Linked DNA regions of Homo sapiens: region 1 is linked to region 2. The links come from fine-mapping of genetic effects on gene expression. Tissue or cell type: whole blood. Region 2 holds a variant in brackets; the other region holds the start of a gene. All regions are shown on one strand. Distances are between the middles of the regions.

What was found. PIP is the estimated chance that this variant, and not a neighbour inherited with it, causes the effect.
Region 1: it holds the start of CFAP92, and the variant in region 2 is fine-mapped to the expression of CFAP92 in whole blood (TOPMed, PIP 0.94).

Annotation. Positions count from the first base shown.
Region 1 is chr3:128,990,682-128,998,782 of GRCh38, reverse strand. CFAP92 (cilia and flagella associated protein 92 (putative)) reads left to right here and starts at 4,707. Exons shown (of 16, transcript NM_001394090.1): 1 at 4,707-4,803; 2 at 5,447-5,740. The coding sequence starts at 5,479. RefSeq lists a silencer at 4,492-4,701 and an enhancer at 5,278-6,039.
Region 2 is chr3:128,842,825-128,850,925 of GRCh38, reverse strand. MIR12124 (microRNA 12124) reads right to left here and starts at 4,118; the gene lies at 4,018-4,118. It also overlaps the pseudogene MARK2P17 and the pseudogene MARK3P3. RefSeq lists enhancers at 2,653-3,650, 3,651-4,648, 4,611-4,660, 4,649-5,646 and a silencer at 4,861-5,070. The variant C/T (reference allele first, on the strand shown) is at 3,794.

The sequences.
Region 1 (8,101 bases), 150 kb before region 2:
GAACTGAGCTTTGTAAACAGCTTGGCTGTGGTTTCTTTGCAGACACTGCTCCAGAGGCTGCTCTGTGCTCCCTGGGGATGAACTATAAGGTGCTTTGTCATCCCCCACAGATGCCCACTGAGGTGGTTTTCAGCTTTTCTCCGCAAAAACCATACTGTGAACAGTTTGTGCCATATCTTGAGTGATTTATTACTGGGCCAAGGAGTATACATATTTTATAAGCTTGTGGTATTATCAGCCTGTTTTTTGGAAACTTGTGTTGTTCTATCCAGAGCCCAGAACTGTCTGGGAATGTCCTTGGGCCATTATTTTCAGTGTCATAAAGCTTTTGGGTTTTTAGGGGTCTTGGTTAGTAGATTTGCTTAGTGTTCAGACACCAAGCTTTACTTCTATTAAAAATAGGCCTGTTGTTAGTCAAAGATTTCTTAGATACGACACCAAATGCATGATCCAAAAAAGAAAAAAATGATGAATCGGACCTTCATCAAAGTTCAAAACATTTGCACTTCAAAAGACACTATTAAGAAAATATGACGAACAAGAGACTAGGAGAAAATATTTGTAAAACATATGCCCAGTAAAGGACTTATATTCCGAATTTACAATGAACTCTTAACAACTCAGTAACAAGAAGACAAACAATCCAATCAAAAAGTGGGTGAAGATACAAACAGACATTTCACCAAAGAAGTTGTATAAATAGCCAACATGTGCATAAAACAATCTCAGTATTCTTGTTAGGGAAATGCACATGAAAACTATGATGAAATACTATATTATACTCATGAGAATAGCTGTAGTGAATAAAACAGGCAATAAATCTTGTCAAGAATTTGGAGAAACAGGAAACTTCATGTTGTTGATGGGAACACAAAATGATGCAGCCCCTGTGGAAGATAGTTTGGCAGTTTCTCAAGAAGTTAATCACAAAATGACCATACGACCCAACTCTTCCACTCCTAGATATCGACCCAAGAGAGATGAAAACACATCCACACAAAGACTTGTGTGGGAATGTTCATAGCAACGTTGTTCATAAATGTCTAAATGCCCAAGCCAAATGCCCATTAACTGATGAATGGATAGGCAAACTGTGGTCTGTCCATACAATAGAATATTATTCAGTCATGAAAAGGAATGAAATACTGACACATGCCTCAACATAAATAAACCTTGGAAACATAACGGTAGGTGAAAGAAACCAGTCACAAAGCCAGAACACAGTGTCTGACTCAATTTATAGGAAATGTCTAGAAAAGGCCAATTTTTAGAAACAAAGTAGATATGGTTGCCTAGGACTGGGAGTTGGAACAGAGATTAATTATAAATGTGCATGAAGTCTTATTAGGGGGATGAAAATGTTCTAAAATGAATTTATGATGATGATTACAGCACTAGGTAAAGTTACTGAAAATCATTGAATTCTACGCTTGAAATGGATGGATTTTATTAAATAAAAAATACTTCAATAAAGCTGTTAAAAATGGGGAAGGGGCAAGAAGAAGGTGTATGTAGCTGATTCCCAATATGCTTCCAGCTGCCAGAGTCTTGGGATAGCTTCAGGAAGGCCTCTACATAGCCTGTGGGAGCTTGGGAACCCTCCACCCGGCAGAGTAAGGATGAAGGGATGGATTGTTCAGTGACCTTGAACACCTCCTGCCCCTGGATGCTTGTCCCTCTGCTTACCAGATGTACAGTCCATGTCTTCATCCCCTTGAAGTGGGGCCAGCCTCATGACTTGCTTTGGTTAATGGCATGTAGCAGAGTGACATGGTGCTGGTTCCACGCCTAGGTCCCAAGAGGCCTTGCAACTTCTTCTTTGCCCTCTGGGATCCCTGCTCTGAGAATGCCATCTGAGGAAGCCAGGCCGGGCTATGAGGAGATGAGGCACCACATAGAAGGAAGCTGGTGTACCACTGGGGGCGGGGGAACCCATGGAGGGGAACCAGCGGGCCCACGAAGAGCCAGCAGCAACTGCCAGACATGCAAGTGAGGACTTCTGGCAGCTTCCAGCCATGTTGGTCCTCCAGCTGAGCACAGCATAGGGAGTGAGCCCAGGCGAGGCCAGCAGAGAACTACTCAGCTGATGCATGGAGTGGTGAGAAATAACAAGTGTTTGTTTGACACCATTAAGTTTGGGGATGGTTTTTACTCAGTAACAGATAACTGAAACAGAAGCCCCCCTTCCTTTGCTTCTGATCTGCCAGCCCTGAAGCCATCTTCACTGAGGTAGGGTTGTAGACCCACCACTGTCTCATACCTGAGTAGTGGGTAGCACACCTTTGCCCTCACTTCATCCTGTGATGCCCTAGGTCTTGACCCAGACACCATCTCTCTCAGGGCAGTGGTTCCATATTCTGGTTGTGCAATACAATCTTGGTGGTAATTTAAAAATATGGCTCCCGTTCCTATTATTTATTGCACAACAAATCACCCCAAAACTTAGTGGTTTAAGAGAGCAACAATTTGCTTATAAATCTACAATTTCTCATGATGGAGACAGCTTGTTTCTGTTCCTCAATGTCAGCCAGGGTGGCTCAAAGACTGAGGGCTGGGATCATTTGAAGTCTTGCACTCTCATATGTCTGGGGGTTGAGGCTGCAATTGGCTGGGAACCGTCAGTCACAACAGTTTCATGTGGCCATTTCACATGGCTGCTTGGGCTTCCTCACAACATGCTAGCTGGATTCCTAGCATGAATACTATACCTCAAAAGAACAGGGCAGAGGTAGATGGAATTTATATGACCTGGCCTCAGAAATCACATAGTGTCATTTCCTCTGCACTCTTTTGACTGAGCCAGTCACAGAGGTCTGCCCAGTTTCCAGAGAAGGAGACTAGACCCCCCAACTGGGTGGGAGGAATGTGAACCTCACAATGCCTGCCGGAAGATTATGTGGGAGGGGATCTTTTGAGGTGGCTGTCTTTGGAAAATACAATCTGCCACTGGTTTCTAAGCTCCACCCCTGGAGAGTCACTTCCACAGGTCTTTAATGAAGCCTCAGAATTGTATTTTTGACATGTAGGTGTTTCCAGTGCACATCCAGGATGGCACATTGGCCCTTGGTCCAAGACCTCTGGCCTCTCACTATTGAGCTTGGGAAGAGATTGGCTTCTGTCCTAGGTGGTGATGTGATCTAGGAACCTTTGGAGGGAAACCAGCCTCAGGCCAGTGGGTAGGACCTGGGGAGCAGGAGGCCTGATGTCTGTCCAAGAGTGGTGGTAGTGTTGAACTGCCCTTGTTAAAGGGCCCTTTTGGGGGCTGGTGTATCTGAGTAGCTTTGTATTCTTCCAGCCCTTCATGTGTCTCCTGAGCACTTCCTGGCATACAGACAGCAGTCTCCAGGCTGCTGCAGGTGGGGTGTGGGCAAGGTGGTTGCCGTTCTCGTGCTAAGAGTTTGAACCCACTCCTCACAGGGCCCACTGCCATTTGGTGTCTTCCCTAACAGCTGTACTTGAGGCTGTTTTTCAGACTGAACCCGAGGAGTATTGGAGCACCCAGTATTAAAGGGGCTGTCCCATGCCCTGAGAGCGGTCTGGGGAGGCATGCACTGGGAGGCTCAGGACTTGGGTCTCAGCCCCAGCTGCGCCACAGTTTTGCTCTTTGACACAAAGTAGGTCATAGCTCAACTCAGCTAAAGTTTTCTTAATAGCCAAGCTTGTGTGTAGCCTCAGCTCCCATTCTCTTGAACAAACTGACTGCCGGAGCAGGGTGCCCTCCCTCAACAGAAGACCTGCCTTGGCTCCCCATTGCCCATAGTCCTGTGCCCTAACCTGCCCTGTGGGGCTATGTACCATGGGCCCTGCACACTGCTACAGCCTCGCCACCCATTCCTGAAACTTGCCATGCCCTTTCACCTCTATGGGCCTTTGCATATGCTGTTCCTCTACCTGGGATGCTTTCTCTTGCTTTCACCGCCTCTGCCTAGTCACCCCCCAGATTTGGCGTTGCTCACTTCCTCCATGAGGCCTACCCCAGCCCTCTGTCCCAGCCGCTTGCTGTGCTGAGGTCCTCTACATTAGGAGCCGCAGCCAGGGCTCTCAGCTTGGGTGGTTTAGCAGACGAGCGGAGGCTTTGGAGTCAGGCAGTCCGGATTTCAACACAGTGCTGCGCCCTACTTGCTGTGTGACCTCGGGCGAATCGCTTCACCTCTCTAAGCTTTGTTTTCTGATCTCTGAGTTGGCGCTCATGATCACTAACAAGAATTCTCATGCTATTTTAAGGACATCAGCGACAGAAGCAGAGAATCTAATGAGAGGGATCGTGGGGAGGTCTGGTTTTTAAGGACATCGGCGACAGAAGCAGAGAATCTAATGAGAGGGATCGTGGGGAGGTCTGGAGTTTGCAGAGCCCACAGCTTCCTTTGCTTTTATTAAAGAATGGGAGGTGGGAGCTGATGGAGGGGGAGGAAGGAGCCATCAACCCCTACCTCCCATCGTACGGGCAAGGACCAGGCTTATAGTAGGTGCTGACGTTCCGAGTAGAAACTCCTTAATGAGTGAATGCATGAGTGAAGGAATGAAGGCAGCTGGTTTCTGAACCTGGATGTAGCCATTTGACAAACTGCGCGCAGTGGCTGAGGGGGAAAGCCCCGCCCCGCGGAGCCCCGCCCCCAGGCCGCACGCCCTCGCGTCTCCTAGCAACCGCCAAACGTAGCTGAGTGGCTGGGCCTGCGGCCCTCCCTGCACCGGCGGACGCTCCTCTCAGTCTTGGAGTCTCTTCGCCCAGGTGGCTGTGGATCCGGTACGGGAGTTGCCGCCGCGGTCCAACTCCCCGCTGCCGCCCAGCGCATCCGCTCGCAGGTACCGCCAGCACCTGGAGGGGAACCCCGACCCCTGCCCCCACCTCGGCCGCCGCAGCCCGGGACTCTTCCCGCCTCGCCTCGATGCGTGTTCCCTCTTCGGCGTTTGCCCGGCGTTCCGCCTCCATGGGCCTGAGCTGATGCCCCGAGCCCAGCACCCAGTGCACATTCATGTTCTGTCTTGGGGACAGGGCTTGCCCTCCCCGACCTCGCCAGGCTCCTGCACGTGCTGCCCCCGGCCTGGTTTGCCTCTCCCCAAATAGCAAACGCATCTTGTGCTTAGGCGCAGCAGGCCTGCCTGAGCAGACGTCCCCTCTCCCGCCTGGTGGCTCCCGGGAGCTGCTCACCTGGGGCAGGCATTCCAGAAGCCCGGCGACTGACTCCTGGTTAGGCGAAGGAAACGGGGTTGCTCGTCGTCGTGCTTACTGCCAGCCACCCTTATCTGTTGTTCCTTCATCCATTCATTCTCTAAGTCGATTGAGTACCGACTGTGTGGCAGGCAGTGAAGGAGCCCCGGCGTTCATCTAGGAGCAGGCGGGGGAAGCAGGGAAGAGAAGGGTGGGTGCTTCTGCAGGAGGCCGGGCTTACCTCCTGGAGCAGCCCTGGAATACAGGCGGGGACAGCCTTCACTTTCTCCCTGCCAGGAGCGCCGGCGGCCAGCAGTGCGCTCTGCAGCATGTCGCTACATGCCTGGGAGTGGGAAGAGGACCCCGCAAGCATAGAGCCCATCTCCTCCATCACTAGCTTTTACCAGTCCACGAGCGAGTGTGACGTGGAGGAACACCTGAAGGCCAAGGCCAGGGCCCAGGAGTCTGACTCTGACCGCCCGTGCAGCAGCATCGAGTCCTCATCTGAGCCTGCCAGCACTTTCAGCTCCGACGTGCCCCACGTGGTCCCCTGCAAATTCACCATCTCACTGGCCTTCCCTGTGAATATGGGTAGGTGCTAGAGCAGAAGTTTAACACCCTCTGAAAAAAGGAGGTGCATGACTTTCTGCAGGAGTTTAGGGCGCATACACCCCACATCCTCTCTCCACCTGCCCCACCCCAAAGCGGGCTGGCCAGTGCCAGCCAGGAGCAGAGGTTGAAAAGAAACAGCAATTTTAGGAGAGGCCCAACTGTGGCTGCATCAGCTTCACATACTTAATCCTCTCAACAACCCTAAAGCAGGTGATGTTCTGTCTGCTTTTTACAGAAGAAAAAAAAACCATGGAGAGGTTAAGGCATTGATTCTCATAAGCGCTTGTGCATCACCTAATACCTTGTTTAAAATACATTTTCCGGGAGTCTGAGGCAGGAGAGTCTCTTGAACCCCGGAGGTGGAGGTTGTGGTGAGCAGAGATCACGCCATTGCACTCCAGCCTGGGCAACAAGAGCAAAACTCTGTCAAAAAAAAAAAAAATAATAATTCTTTTTTTATTGAGATGGAGTCTTGCTCTGTCACCAGGCTGGAGTGCAGTGGTGCGATCTCAGCTCACTGCAACCTCAGCCTTCCGGGTTCAAGCAATTCTCGTGCCTCAGCCTCCCAAGTAGCTGGGATTACAGGTGCACGCCACCACACCCATCTAATTTTTGTATTTTTAGTAGAGACTGGGTTTCACCATGTTGGCCAGAATGGTCTCGAACCCCTGACCTCAGGTCATCCTCCTGCCTCAGCCTCCCAAAGTGCTGGGATTACAGGCATGAGCCACCGCACCCGGCCAAAAAATACATTTTCTCTGATCTGTTGAATCAATCTCTGAATGTAAAGGTGTATCAATTAGCTATTGCCACAAAAATGCGGTGCAACAAACCCAAACAAGCCCCCAAGCTCATGGCTGCACACAGGAACCTGAGGTTCTCCTGGAGGTGCTGGGCGCTGGTCTAGGCTGGGTTCTGCAACAGCTCAGCTCTGCTTCATGCTGCTCCTTTTCCTCCTGGACCAGTGGGCTATCCTAGACCCCTTCTTGTTCTAGAAACACGGACACACAGGAGGGCAAGCCTAGCCCCACAAACACTCCTCAAGTCTTTGAGTGTCTCCCACCTGCTAGCATTTTATTGGCCAAACCAAGTCACATGGTTCCAGCCCAATATGAGGGGAGGAGACAAGTAGTACTTCACATCTTGATAGACCTTGCTTTGTTTTGTTTTCATCTGCTTACTTGAACTAGCCCACCATTATGATTTCAACTTCTCCTGGTATTCTGTCGATGGTGTAAGTTTCTTGTATGGGTTGGAACCCCGAGAGCGCACCAACAGACAACACGAGGCGGTGTGGAGCAACATGCTGTTTCAATGAACGCCTTGGTGCAGGCCGGCTGAGGCCTAAAATGGCGTCAGCCCCAAGTGAGGACGGGGCAAAGGTTTTATAGTCTCCTGTAAACAGGAAGTGTCCTAGTCTGGCGTAACTGCTACGCTGTACCCGGATGGCCTCTTTCTCATCTTCATGTCTTCCGGCCAGGGTAGGTGTATTCCAGCCGGCTCTCCTCCTGCTTCTGCTATTTTGCTGGTGCACGCTGCTGACGTAAGTGACCTTACGCCTTGGGACTAGGCTTGAGAAGGGAGGAGTTATTCATCTCCTTAAGCTTTCAGGCCCTGGGGAGAGTCTTACAGATGGTTGCTTCAGCTATTTTGGAGGCCGACTGGTTGGGTGTATAGTATGTTTAGAACTGCTCCATCTTCTTGGTGAACTGAACTTTTTGTCATTTTATGGTGACCATTCCTGTCTAAAATGATGCCTTTACTCTTGGGTCTATTGCTATAAAGCAAAAGAGCCTGGAAAAAGACATCTGGCAAATACCAACCAAAAGAAAATTGGCACTTGACCTCCTTTAGCCCTCATCTCTTTCACAGCATCTTCTAAGCATGTTTTTGTTTTTGTTGTTGTTGTCCTCTAAAGGCATTTATAAAATGGATCTCTGTGGGGCAAAACTTCATGAGACCTTGTGTGCCTAAGAGTATTTTTTTATCATGCCAATACCTTTAAATGACATACCTTCGGCTCTACATAAAATTCTAGTTTAATTTTTTTTTCCTTCAATACCTGAGTATTTACAGATGAGTACATAAATGTTTCTTTATATAAATTATTTATTTATTTATTTTTGAGACGGAGTCTTGCTCTGTTGCCTAGACTGGAGTTCAGTGGCACAATCTCGGCTCACTGCAACCTCCACCTCCCAGGTTCAAGCAATTCTCCTGTCTCAGCTTCCCAAAGTAGCTGGGACCACAGGCACATGCCACCACGCCCAGCTAATTTTTGTATTTTTAGTAGAGATGGGGTTTCACCATATTGGTCAGGCCGGTCTTGAACTCCTGACC
Region 2 (8,101 bases):
TTGACCCCGTAGAAGTAGCGAGTAGATCAATGGTGACCAGGGGCTGGGTATCAGGTGTGGGGGTGGGAAAGAGGGAGAGAATGGAGAGTTGTTGCTCAAAGGACCAAAGTCTGAGATGGACAGGAAGAAGAGGTTTTCACATCCAGTGCACAGCAGGGTGACCAGAGTCAATGAGAATGTATTGCGTATTGCAAAACACCTGAGGGAGTCCATGTCAGTCAAATGTCTTTCTGTACTTAGAATGGAGAGGACGAAGGCCCTGAGGTCCAAGAACACTACAAACATGACAGGTCAGCCACGTGTGGGCTCCAACGGCCGCATGGGAGAACTGGGCAAGACACCCTCGCTGCTGTGTGTCTGACACCCCCAGCCTGGAGGCCTTGTCCAGTGGAGGACAGAAGTGTGTAAAGTGGCAGAGGGGTCTCTGCATGGGATTCAAATCAAGTAAGCTTCTGGTAGCCGTGTGGCCTTGAAAGCATTCTTATCCAAAGGAAGGGGTGAGATGGACCGCCTGGAGCCTCCTGGACATCAGAGGGCGCCTCCATCCCACCTAGTGGAATGTAAAAGCCTGGACAGTGTTTCCTGGGGCACTTCTCCCCTGCCCTGCTCTTCTCTGTCTTTTCTTCATCCAGATGGTTCTAATTTGGCTCATGTTAGGGTAGGAGAGAAGATATGGCCCAGGGCACTGTCTCTTCCTCCTGTGTGCTCCTGCTTCCTCTGCCCTGCCACCTCCTTCTCCCCTAACCCCGCCCAGGTCACTGCAGTCCTCTCTCCATTTGGAGGCAGCCAGAGTGATAGTGCAGCCCCCCGGGAGGCCATGGCCGGGAGCTTTGTGGGCAGCAGCCAACGGAGTGCCAGAGGCACTCGACCTGCCCACGGGAGCAGCTTCCATTTGTTCACACTAATCCAGGGCGTGCCCTCACGGGGTAGCTGGGGAGCACAAACTGTGTGCACTTGGATATCCTCCAGGGATTCTGCAGAGTCTAAAGGGGACGGTGGAGGGGAAGTGTCCTCTGGCTGTGCCCCTGAAGTCTGATTGTGCCTCCGGGGTCTGCACACAGCCGCAGAGCAGGGGATGACCACAGGGCCTCTCTGGGGACACCTCCTAGCTGCCCCCACATGGCCACTGATGCACCCAGGGCCTCAGGTGTGATTCGACAGTCACTGGCCCGGGTCCCCTCAAAGCAAAACGGGGGCTCCAGGGTGGGCAAGGGTGAGGGTGTGACCCCAGAAGAGTCATGAAAGGATAAGGAGGGGAGTGGCTCTTAGTTTCTGGGCACACCCCTCCCCTCTCCTGTGCAAGGGAAAATGATAGAGGGAACATGGCAAAGGAGACCAGGCTCTGGAGAGGGCTCTCGGTCTCCACCCTCCCCAGGCAGCCTGTGCGACTCTAGCCTAGTTATTGGAGTTGGCGTTGTGCCTCAGTTAGCATAGTTCAGAGGTAGGATTTGTAGTCAGGGTAGTTAGGAGGCACCACGGAGGAGGGATCAGCCTCCAACGCACTTGATGAAGAGATCCAAAAGTGTAGGATCCTCAAGACCATCGGCCAGGGCACGTTCGGTGAGGGCACACTGGTCCAGCATATGCTGACAGGGACCCAGGTAGCCATGGAAATCATCCCGAAGAAGGCTGGCTCCCCCGCATCACTCTCCAGAGAGGTCAGTATCACGGAGACCCTCAAGCGTCTGAACATTCAGCTCCATCAGGTGACTGACACCATAGACACCGACTATTTGGAGATGGAGTGCGTCGGACGAGGACAGCTGCACCACCAGATATGCCACCACAGCCACATCGAGGAGGAGGAGGAGGCCCACACCCGGTTCAGGCAGATTCCGTCAACACTGCAGGACTGCCACTTAAAGAACATCTCACATGGAGACCTAAAGCCACAAAACATCCTACTGGATGAGGATGGCAACATCAAATACCTGGACTTTGGCTTCAGCACCACACTTACGAAGTGTGCCAGCCTTTTGTGGCACGTACCCCCTACGTGGCCCCAGAACTCTTCCTGGGCCAGGGGTGTCAGTGCCCGCCGTGGAGGTATGCTTAGAGTAATGCTACACCACATGGTAGCCGGGGCTCTGCCCTTCTACTCTATGCACATCAAGAACAAAATAAACAGGAAAGTACACATTGCCTCCATTTTTCTTTTCATTTCAAATAGATTTATTAAAAAGTTACTAACACTAGACCCCAGGGTGTGACCCCCACTGGAACAACCAATGAGGGACCCGTGGGTGGACAGTGGCCAGAAGATGCTACTGACTTCATACCAAGAATGACTCCTGAACTACCCGAACCCCAACAACGCAGCTCATGGTGGCCATGGGATTCCAGGCCAAGAGCATCTCCATGTCAAAGAAAAAACATTCAACTATCGCATGGCCACCTGCCTCATTTTAGAGTGCACAAAAAAACAGAAGAGGAAGCGCTCCACCATCAGAGCACCCTCCCTTCCTCTGGGGTTCCCACCTTTTCTTCCCCAGCCCCCAAAGTTTCCACCTTCTGGGAGAAACTGAAGAGGGCTCAGAGCGAGCCAGCTTTTGAGACTTTTAAAATTCAGCTGCCCGAGGAGGGCCAGAAGTCAGGACAGAAGACCACCATTCCTGCCAGTGCACCTGCCGGCCTGCAGAGGAAGCCAGCCATTTCCAGTGAAGTCCCCCAGCATGACTCCATGGCCTCTCCCTCCAGCCAGAGCACCAGCAGCAGTGGGTCCCTGGCTCAGTGACAATCATCACAGGAAGCCAGCGTCCTCCAAGCTGGGCAGCCCAAAGCTGTGATGTCGCCTCGCTGTCAAGAAGCTGGGGCTGCCGCAGGGCCGCCAGGAGATGCCTTTCAATGCTTTTAAAAGTATTATGTGTGTGTCCACCGAAGAAAACAAGCAAAATGATTGCCCCGACATAGTTGGATGGCTGAAGACAAAAATCGAGTAGGTGGGGCAGTCAAGCCGCACTTCCTGCATTTTACTGCATTAAGGCCCTGAGGTTCAAAAATATTAAAAACCTGTGACATGTTGGCCATGTGTAGACTGCAACAGCTGTGGGTGGGAGGCAGGCAAGAGGCCAATGCTTCCATGTGCCCAGCACACCCAGCCCAGTGGCATTCAGCAGAGGATGGAGGTGTCCAAGTTGCTGCCGGGGTCAGTGAACATGATTCTAGTCAAGACGGCATCTGGCAACCCTGCGGCCTTCAAAGGCCTCCTATCCAAAGCTACGGATGAGCTGAAGGACAGCATGACACCTCCTGGAGACCAGAGGGCCCCTCTGCCCCACCTGGTCCAGGGCACCATCTCTTCCTCCGGTCTGTCCCCTGCTTCCTCTGCCCTGCCCCCTTCCCCTTCCTCCCTGCCCAGCTCACTGCCATCCTCTCTCCACCTTTCCAAGGTAGACATAGCTTGCTGCTCTCCTGAGGCCCCACTAAGGCTGTGACTCTGGTCCCCGCTATCCTCTTGGACTTTATTTCCCTGGCACCCTCCACACCTCCTTTTTGTTTGTCCCAGCCCCGCCCCCAACTCCCTGTCCCCCAGCTCCTCCTCTCCCATTCCTAATCCCCTCATCCTGATTCCTTTTCTCCTACATCTTCTCTAGCTAAATCATCTTTCCTTTACATGCTAATAATCTGCCCTTCTGTCCCCTAGATGTCTGCCTTGTGCAACATGGAATGATGAAAATCTAGAAACTGGAATCTAACTCCTGGCCCTAGTCAGGACTCAGGTTTTGTGAAAGGGAGAAAAAAAAAAAAGCAACTCCCCATCAAAACCAATACCTAGTCTAGAGCCTGATATAAG[C/T]GCCACTCAAAACATGTTTCCTTCCATTATTCTTCTATAGCCAGGTAACTATTCCTAAAATAGAAGCCCCTGAGACCACTGAGAAGCATTGCAGTGTGGAGTGACAAGGGTCTGAGAGCCGGTCTTACTGTCCCTTGTCCCCCAATCACAGTTAACATGAAGCCGAACTCCAGAGAAGAGCCAGGCCCATAGGGCATTTAGATTTTACTCCAAGTCTAATTCCCAGTCCAGTGCTCCTGCCTCCAGCATCTGCATTTCCTCTGTCCGCCTGGCCGAGGAAGGGGTGCGTGGCAGAGTGCAGAGCATGGGGAAAGAAAGCGAGGCCCACGGGTAGCCCCAGGAGGGCGGTGCGATGCATTCAGCTCTCGCCCCCTGCCTGGGTGCAGGCCTCCAAGTGGGTCTTCCTGTTTCTCCATCTTCTGAGGCCCAAAGCTTCCTCAGAGCCTCCGTGGGTCCCACCCCCGCACCCATCACACGGTGTCTGGGCCCTGCCTGCCTGGCTCACATCCCCACCCCCACCCGCTGCCCTAGTTCCATCCTGGGACAGCCCACTGGGCACTGCGGTTCCCCCTCTTAGAAGACTTTCACAGGCCCTGCCTGTCCCTTTTGCCAATCAAGTGAATGTCATCTCCTCAGAGAAGCCCTCCCTTAGCACCCCATCTGCAGTAGGGTCACCCCCATCTTCCATCATCACTTTTCCTGGTGTTTCCTTCCTAGCCCCTGTCCCTACTGGGAGTTTTCTGTACTGATAGACCAGTCTCTCTCGCCCACCAGGGGGCCAGCGTGTCTGTCTTCTCTGTCCCAGCACACTGAATGATTATTTGTGGGCATAAATGAAATGAAGGCCCCCGAGGTGCTGTGGCCCTGGTGCAGCCACGTCCCGGCGGGCGGCACTGAGGAAGGACAAGCTCCAAAACCCAGGGCTCCAAAGGACCCATGGAAGGTCGGGAGGCTCAGAGGAGTGACCCCGCGGCTGGGCCAGCGCTTTGAGGCCCGTAGGGACCCAGCTGATAGGGCTTGGGTGAGACCTCCGGAGGCGCTGAGCGGGCCGGGAGCCGCGGGACCTGCAGAGGGCGCCAGTCCGTGTGGGGGCAGCAGCGCCAGAGGGCCCTTGGCCTTGGCCTTTGGCGGTTGAGTGTGGGTTTTTGGCGGTTGAGGGCGGGCAGTTGGCTGTTGGGCACCCCGCCCCTGCCGCCTGGCCCCGCCCCTGTCTCCATGGAGACCCGAGGCTACCCAAACGGCATCTCAGCCCTGCCAGGCAATCCAGGACTCCCAGCTGAGCCTGCAGCAGGGCTCCTCCCGAGGGGCTGTGCATGTTTCCCCGGGGTGGGGCTGAAGCCAGAGCCCGGAGGTTTGCCCGTGGGGCACGGATCCCCCTGTCACTCGCCCCCACGGGCTGCAGTGAAGGAGGCTCTGATGGGAGGATTTCCAGCTCCTACCCTGCAAGGATATGAACCCCAGGGAAGGCATTCCTGCTCTGGGGACTGCCTCCCTCCCCAACATCAGAGCCAGCCATCGCAGAAGCTAGGCCAAGCTGACCACTCTTGTCTGTGATCTCTGCTAGGGAGGCTGAAAGAACATCCAGCCCCACCCGTGGTTCCTTTCTGCCTCAAGCTATATGACAATACGACACCTTATCTATTTTTTCATTTCCACTGGAGACACTAGTAAAACAATTCCTCACCCTCAGCCCCAGGGAGCGGCCCCCACTAAACCAGCTGATGTGGAATTCCTGGGTCAATGCTGGCCGGGAGGTGCTGCTGACACCATACAGAGAACCTGGGCACCTGCGCCCCCTACAGCCCTGGTCATGGTGGCTAGGGGATTCCAGCCCGAGAACATCTCAGTGTCAACACTGGAAAAGAAATCAACTCTCCCATGGCACATACCTCGTTTTAGAACACACAAAAGAACAGAAGAGGAAGCGCTCCACCATCAGAGCAATGGCCCTTCCTCCTGGGGTTCCCATCTGTCCTTCCCCGTCTGCCAAAGTTTCCACCTTCCCAGCAAAACCAAAGGGGGCTCAAAGCAAGCCAGTATTTCCTACTTGTCATTTTCAGTTGCCCAAGCAGGGACAGAAGTCAGAGAAAGTCAGATAAGAGTCTTGTTTCCCCCAAGAGAACAGGACTAGGAAGCCAGAAGCGGGTTGGGGACCAGGTGGGAATGCTGTGGGCCCCCTTGTCTCCCCAGTGTGCTGCTGTCCTTAAAATCCACTTTGGGAGTGAGGGTCCTCCAGGTGTCAATACTGAATCTCCCTCCACCCAATGCCAGTTTGCAACCCCAGACGGGGTCCCTGTGGGCTCTGCTTGAGCTCCCGAAGGGCCGGCCCCTCAGAGTCTGTCTTCCCCACCTTGCTGCCATCCACCCTCGGGAAGTGCCAGCCCTGTGAGAGGAGGCGCCCTCCCCAGGCCTGGCTTCCACTGGCACTGGACAAGGCCATAATTGTTTCTGGCCCATGACCTGTGGTACAGCCTGACATCTCTTCTCTGGAAGCCAGGGCTCCAGGCTCAGCCAGCTAGGCTGGATCAAGAGACCATAGGGAAGTGGCTTCAGGCACCAGAACAAAGCCCACAAAGAGAAAGCCCCCTCCAGTATCAACTCATGCCAGGCCTCAGGAGCCGTGTGGCCCTAGGTACAGGCCGGGCAACCTTGGCTTGTTCACCTCCCTTTGCGGCAGCGTAGCTAGGAGGCACCATAGAGCCGGGATCGGCCTCCACCTCACCTGGCAAAAAGATACAAAACTATGGGATCCTTGACACCATCCGCCAGGGAACTGGCCCGGCATAGGCTAACTGGGACCCAAATTGTCCTCCAAATCATCCCTAAGAAGGCTGGCCTTGCTCTCTAGAGAGAGAGATGAGTATCATGAAGACTCTCTATCACCCAAATATCATTCAGTTCCACCAGGTGACTGACAAGGTGGAAACCATGTATGTGGTGATGGAGTACGCCAGAGGAGGAGAGCTACAGCACCAGATATGCCACCAAGGCCACATCGAGGAAGAGGAGGCCTGAACCATGTTCAGGCAGATTCTGTCAGCCCTGCACTACTGCCACTTGAAGAACATCACACATCCACACACAAAACATGCTACTCAATGAGGAACGCAATATAAAAATCATGGACTTTGGCTTTAGCATGACATTCGGGGAGGCATAGATGCTGAAAACATTTTGTGGCGCGCACCCCTACGTGGCCACGGAACTCTTCCTGGGCCAGGAGTGCCAGCGCCACCATGATTGTATGGAGCCTCCGTGCCACACTGTATTCCATGGTGGCCGGGGCCCTGCCCTTCTACTCAGGGAACCCTACAGGCCTCAAGAAAAAATGATCAGTGCAGAATACCGTTCACCACAATTTTTTTCCCCAACGAATGGAAAGACTTATTAAAAAGTGACTAATGCTGGACCCCAAGGAGTGTCCTTCACTGGAACAAGTGATGAAAAATCCATAGGTGAAAAGTGTCCAGAGGTTGCCAGTCACACCACACCAAGAGCCACTCCTGGACCACCCGAACCCCAAACAACCCAACTTGTGGTGGCCATGGGATTCCAGGCCAAGAACATCTCAGTGTCATCAATGGAAAACAAATCAACTATCCCAAGCAACCTCTCATTTTAGATCACAGAAAACAACAGAAGAGGAAACACTCCACCATCAGAGCATCGTCCCTTTTTCCTGGGGTTCCCACTGTCCTTCCCCATCTGCCAAAGTTTCCATTTCCCAGTAAAACCAAAGAAGGCTCTAAGCAAGCCAGTATTTCCTACTTATCATTTTCAGCTGCCCAAGAAAGGCCAGAAGTCAGAGAAAGTCAGATAAAATTCTCCTTCCCCGCAAGAGAAAAGGACCAGAAAGCCGGAAGCAGGCTGGGGACAGGCTGGGAGTGTTGTGGGGCCCCTTGTCTCCCTAATGTGCTGCTGTCCTTAACATCCACTTTGGGGGTAAGGGTCCCCAGGTGTCAATACCGAATCTCCCTCCACCCAGTGCCAGTTTGCAACCCCAGAGAGAGGGTCCCTGTGGGCCCTGCTTGATTTTCTCAAGGGCCCCTCAGAGTCTGTCCCTCTGCCTTGCTGCTGTGCCCCACTGGAAGTGCCCGCCCTGTGGGAAGCAGGCCTGGCTTCCATTTGCATCAGACAAGGCGAGAGTTGTTTCTGACCTGTGACCTGTGGTAGAGCTTGACATCTCTTCTCCAGAAGCCCAGGGCTCCAGGCTCATTGAGCTGGGCTGGGTCAAGAGACCACAGAGAAAGGGGCTCCAGGCACCAGGGCAAAACCCACAGACAGAAAGTGCCCTCCAGTGTCCACCCA